Regions from separate parts of the Homo sapiens genome. Here region 2 is linked to region 1. Evidence: fine-mapped QTL for protein levels in blood plasma. A gene starts in region 1. The other region holds a variant in brackets. All regions are shown on one strand. Distances are from middle to middle.

Region 1 (2,859 bases):
GTGGCTCATACCTGTAATCCTAGCACTTTGGGAGGCCGAGGTGGGCAGATCACGAGGTCAGGAGTTTGAGACCAGCCTGACCAACATGGTGAAACCCCGTCTCTACTAAAAATACAAAAATTAGCTGGGCGTGGTGGTGTGTGCCTGTGATCCCAGCTACTCAGGAGGCTGAGGCAGGAGAATCACTTGAACTCGGGAGGCGGAGGTTGTGGTGAGCCGAGATCGCGACACTGCGCTCCAACCTGGGCAACAAGAGCGAAACTCCATCACAAACAAAACAAAACAAAACAAAACACAACAAGCAAACAAACAAAAAAACAAAAGCGAAAAGAATGGCTGGGGCAGCCTAGGGCAGGTACACGTCTTTGTCCTCCCCACCCCCGTCACCAGGTCCTCGTAAACAATGATAGAGGGAGGAGATACGGAGGGGCAAAACAAACCCCCTCCTCCATAGGCCCCAATTCTCCCTTTCCCCACAGCTCCAAAACCTTTCAACCCCTTTCCTCTTTTCTGCAGATTTTATTTAGTCATAGGCTGGGGGATGGAGAAGGGGACCATAGATTCCCAAGCAGCCATTCCACTGGGACTCATTTTGGTTGTCTGATAGTCCCAGCAACCTGTGCCAGCCATGTTGAGGAAGGGCTCTCTCGGTTCAGACTCCCAATTCCTGGACTTAGACCCACATGATTGTTTGAACCTTCCTTCCTCTCGCCACTCATTCTTCCAGGGCACCTGCCACTTTTCTTTCTCATCCGCGTGCCTCCCCCTCCCTTTCATTGCATGCACTTCTTGTTGCATTTTCTGCTGCTTTCTTGGCCTCTCCTCCTGAATGATCATTCCTGCTCACCACGCTTGGGACTCCTGAGGAAATGGTGACCCAGTTTCCTGGAACTACTTACCCCAGAAAGATCCGGACCAACCCCAGCTCTACTTACAAAGGGGAGAATTGGAGGTCAGAAGCTATGCATGAAGGTGGGGAGAGCCCACAGGGTCTTATGAGGCCAGAGACCCGACAGCGCCCTTGGCACTACCTCCCTGCCAGCTGCTCCATCCCCCTTTCTCGTTCCTGCCCTACAGAGACAAGTGGACTCACTTGGCTGGCTGCGAGAAGCCGAAGTAATGATAAGGATGAGGACAAGGAGAGACAGGGCAGCCTCGGAGACCTTCATCCTCTCAGCGAGGCAGTACAGCTTCAGGGAGAGCCGAATGAAGATGTTGTCTGTTGCTGGTGGTCCGCTTGCCAACTACTCAGCTCTCTGGACCTTGACCGCATCAGAGCCGGTAGAGGAGGAGAAACAACAGGCCTCAGTGTTTGCTGAAACAGAGGGCAGCAGAGGATGGGACTTGGTGCAGAGCTGAATTCAGTAGAATCTGAATTCACGTGAAGAAATGGGCGAATGTGTGTCAGCTACCTTACATGCCCTATCTTATATAATCCTTAAAATAGTGAATAGCGATTATTACTTCCCTGGGACTACTGAGGCCTAGAGGCTAAATAAATTGTCCAAGGTCACCTGGGTGGATAGGCGGATGAAAAACCAGATCTGTTTGATTTCACCATGTTACCTGCCACCATCTGTATGTTGGGGAAGGGCAGGCAGGGTTGAACCACCCCAGCTTCCCCCAGGTGATCAGTCTTGGGGAGATGAGCACAAAGCAGGATTACAGAGCCCAGACTGAGGCAAAGGTAGGGCTTAGTTGCCTCTGAGAAGGAAATGCCCTCTCCCAGTCCAAGGCCACATGATTGAGCTCACACTCTTTCCTGTCACAGTGTATGCTAATACTCCAAAAAAAAAAAAAAACAATGTGCCTGATCCTTGGGTCCCCATTTGTTGCTGGACCGTTTGACTTATTTGTCAATGTTTTTATTTATCTCTTTGGACCTCGGACTTTGGACTGATTTTTAGGTGTAGCCAGCTCGCTGATCCCTCCTGGGTGCCCCCATGGCCAACCATGACCAGCAGGGGACCCTCCAACTCTGTGCACCTGACAACCTGCGTCTGTGCTCCAGGACTCCAGCTTCTGCCCCTCTGGCCTGGGCTCTGGCTGGACCTGTCCCACAGCTTCCTCTCTCTTCAGGTGCCTCAGGACCCTTTTCCATGTTGAAAGCTGCATTTAGAGAAGAGATCAAAGATATAAGGGATTTTGCTGTTGATGGACAGCAAGCTTTAGAGGCATAGGTGATGTGTTTCAGGTGTTGAGGGCAGTGGGAGGCAGGGGCAGAAACAGGGACTGTGCAGATCCTTATGGGGCTTTCTGCTTGGCATGACTGCTCATAGATAGGTAAACCGTATAATGCAGTTACTCCTGGTGGGTTCAAGGCTTCACCTGGTGGTGAAGCTGTGGCTTTTTGTGAGGGCAGGGAGGGTACGTATGTGGGGCATCCTCTTGACCTCTGTTTATGGAGGTGACAAGGCCTGAGAAGCCTGGTTGTGACTTTGGCATGCAGGCCCCCATATGGCCCTTAATGTGGCCCACAAGCCCTTCCTTATCTGTGGAAGGCTGGAGGCCAGGAAAGGGTGGTCATAATCCCTACTCTGGGCAAGCTCTTATTCCAAGTACACAGAGCTCCTCCTTGGGCCCTGAAGATAGGTTTGAGAGCTTATTCTTGGAGCATAGTCCTCCTCTTGATTTCTGTCTTATTCCATCTGTCCCTCTATCCCTCCCTCCCTCTTTCTCTCCATCCATCCATCCATCCCTCCCTCCCTTCCTCCCTCCCTTCCTCCCTTCCTCCCTCCCTTCATCCCTCCCTGCTTCCCTCCCTCCATCCATTCCTCCTTCCCTTCATCCTTCCATCCACACATTCTTCCCTTCCTTCATCCATCCATCCATCCATCCATTTCCTGAACACCTGGTATG
Region 2 (2,906 bases), 450 kb before region 1:
TCAATTGTTGAAATTGCTCTCAATTCATACTTAACCATAAATAATAGTCATAAATCATTTACTCAACAAATATTTATTGGAAATCTATTATTTGCCTAGCACTGTGCTAAATCCAGAAAAGACAGTGGTGAACAAAACAAACCTGGTCCCTGTTCTTGAGGAGGTTGACAGTAAACAAGTGACTCCTATGGACAAAAGTTTAGAATGTCAGGGGAGCTTAGAATGGAAACACTGCCCTCACCTGGCAGTTGGAGAGGGAATGGGTTCAGAGAAGGATTTCCAGAAAAAGTAACATTTGAGTTAAGATCTGAAGAATGCAAATGAGGTGAAGAGTTAATTTGGTGAAGAAGGGGGGGAAGAATTTTCTAGACAGAAGTAAGAAGGAGTATGTCAAGTTCAAAAGACTGACAGCACAGAGCTGGAAGGATAGAGGCAGGAGATGAGGTTGGAACCATGCTCAGGTGTCCAGCTGTGCATTGTCTGGTAAGCCACTTTAAGGGTTCCTGGCTTTACCCTAAGAGTAATGGGAAGCTGGCCAGACACCATAGCTCACGCCTGTAATCCCAGCACTTTGGGAGGCCGAGGCGGGCAGATCACCTGAGGTCAGGAGTTCGAGACCAGCCTGGCCAACATAGTGAAACCTCATCTCTACTAAAAATACAAAAATTAACCAGGCTGCACCTGTAGTCCCAGCTACTTGGGAGGCTGAGGCACGAGAATTGCTTTAACCTGGGAGGCAAAGTTTGCAGTGAGTCAAAATCATGCCACTGCACTCCAGGCTGGGCAACAGAAGGAGACTCTGTCTCAAAAGAAAGGCCTGGGCACGGTGTCTCATGCCTGTGATCCCAGCACTTTGGGAGGCCCTGGTGGGCAGATCATGAGGTCAAGAGATGGAGACCATCCTGGCTAACACGGTGAAACCCCATCTCTACTAAAAATACAAAAAATTAGCCGGGCATGGTGGCACATGCCTGCAGTCCCAGCTACTCGGGAGGCTGAGGCAGGAGAATCTCTTGAACCCGGGAAGCGGAGGTTGCAGTGAGCTGAGATCGTCCCACTGCACTCCAGCCTGGCAACAGAGCAAGACTCCGTCTCAAAAAAAACAAAAAGTAATGGGAAGCCATTGGAGGTTGTTAAGCAGGAAGACACAGCATCAGATGAACATTTTTCAAAGTCCTTTCTAGCTGAAGCAGGTTAGAGCAGTCATGGAAAAGACCTTTCAGGATATGGTTTCAGCAGCCCAAATGAGAACAGATGGTGATGTGGACTAAGGTGGGGACAGTGGAGAAGTAGGCAGAGTTGAGAGAGATTTAGAATTAAGCCGGCAGAGTTGAGAGAGATTTAGAAGTAAGCC[G/A]AGGGACCTGGCAATTGATGGGAATTCATGTCTATTATTTCAATTGCTCCTCTTCCATCTCAATCCAATGGATAAGAACCAGAATGGGCCCAGTCACTGGCGGGAGCTGTTTATGAGATACTGCTTCTCACCCCAGATTAAAAACCATAGCTTAGCCAAACATTGAAAGGGAGAAAGGATCCAAATGTGGAGAGAGAACCTGGATATATGCCAAAGCTTAAGCAGCCAAAAGCAGAAATCTCTATCAAGGCCTGGGATCAAGAGTTCTGATACAGGAAGAGCTAATCAATCAAGAGCAAATAAAAACAAAGGGCATAGTAGGAAGGTTAATGCTTGTGGTGCTCCTCATGAGCTGAAAGAGCTAACATTTATTGAGCCAGGAACTGTACCAAAAACTTTACATACATTATCTCATTGCTTTCTCACAACAAATACTATTATCTTTATTTTACCAATGAGGAAACTGAGGTTGGGGGACATATTCAGAGTCATATGGGTGAGGCTCAAATCCAGGAGTATTTGATTCCAAATGCTAGTGTTTCTAATCAAAACCTAGACTCTCTCTTTCTCCTTTTTTTTTTTTTTTTTTAGATGGAGTTTCACTCTTGTTGCCCAGGCTGGAGTGCAATGGCGTGATCTCGGCTCACCACAACCTCCACCTCCCAGGTTCAAGCAATTCTCCTGCCTCAGCCTCCCTAGTAGCTGGGATTACAGACATGTGCCACCTTGCCTAGCTAATTTTTTTTTTTTTATTTTTAGTAGTGACGGGGTTTCTCCACGTTGTTCAGGCTGGTCTTGAACTCCCGACCTCAGGTGATCCGCCCACCTCAGGCTCCCAAAGTGCTGGGATTACAGCACCGCACCCAGCCTTTTTTTTTTTTTAAAGCAACAGGGTCTTGCTCTGTCATCCAGGCTGGAGTGCAGTGGTGCAGTCATAGCTCACTGCAGCCTTCACCACCCGAACTCAAGCAGTCCTCCCACCTCAGCCTCCCAAGTAGCTGGGACTACAGGTGTACGCCACCATGCCTGGCTAGCTTTTTTTGTTTTTGTTTTTGAGATGGATTCTTGCTCTGCCGCCAAGGCTCGAAGGCAGTGGCAGGATCTCAGCTAACCGCACCCTCCACCTCCTGGGTTCAAGTGATCTTTCCACCTCAGCCTCCTGAGTAGCTGGAATGACAGGCACGCACCACCACTCCCAGGTAATTTTTGTATTTTTAGTAGAGACAGGGTTTTACCATGTTGGCCAGGCTGGTCTTGAACTCCTGACCTCAAATGATCCACCTTCCTCGGCCTCCCAAAGTGCTGGGATTACAGGCGTGAGCCACCACACCCGGCCCTGGCTAGTTTGTTTGTTTGTTTGTTTGTTTGTTTGTTTGTTTTGTAGAGATGGGGTCTTGCTATGTTATCCAGGCTGTTCTCAAACTTCTGGGCTCAAGCGATCTTCCCACCTTGGTCTCCCAAAGTGCTGGGATTACAGGCATGAGCAACCACATCCGGCCAAAAATCTAGACTCTTAATCATTGTGCAAACTGGTCTCCCAAATTATTAGGCC

The links. A credible set is the group of variants that fine-mapping cannot tell apart. PIP is the posterior inclusion probability: the model's chance that the variant is causal. Sun 2018 read protein levels with aptamers (SomaScan).
Region 2: its variant is the best candidate, but not a certain one, in a credible set for the plasma level of the CCL16 protein (Sun 2018, PIP 0.87).

The regions. Positions count from the first base shown.
Region 1 is chr17:35,980,252-35,983,110 of GRCh38, forward strand. CCL16 (C-C motif chemokine ligand 16) reads right to left here and starts at 1,246. Exons shown (of 3, transcript NM_004590.4): 1 at 1,094-1,246. The coding sequence starts at 1,169. RefSeq lists an enhancer at 1,761-2,056 and a silencer at 1,761-2,056.
Region 2 is chr17:35,533,266-35,536,171 of GRCh38, forward strand. The region is part of intron 1 of SLFN12L (schlafen family member 12 like); the gene reads right to left. Among named protein-coding and RNA genes, the nearest start is that of SLFN12L, 3.0 kb to the right of the region's middle. The variant G/A (reference allele first, on the strand shown) is at 1,355.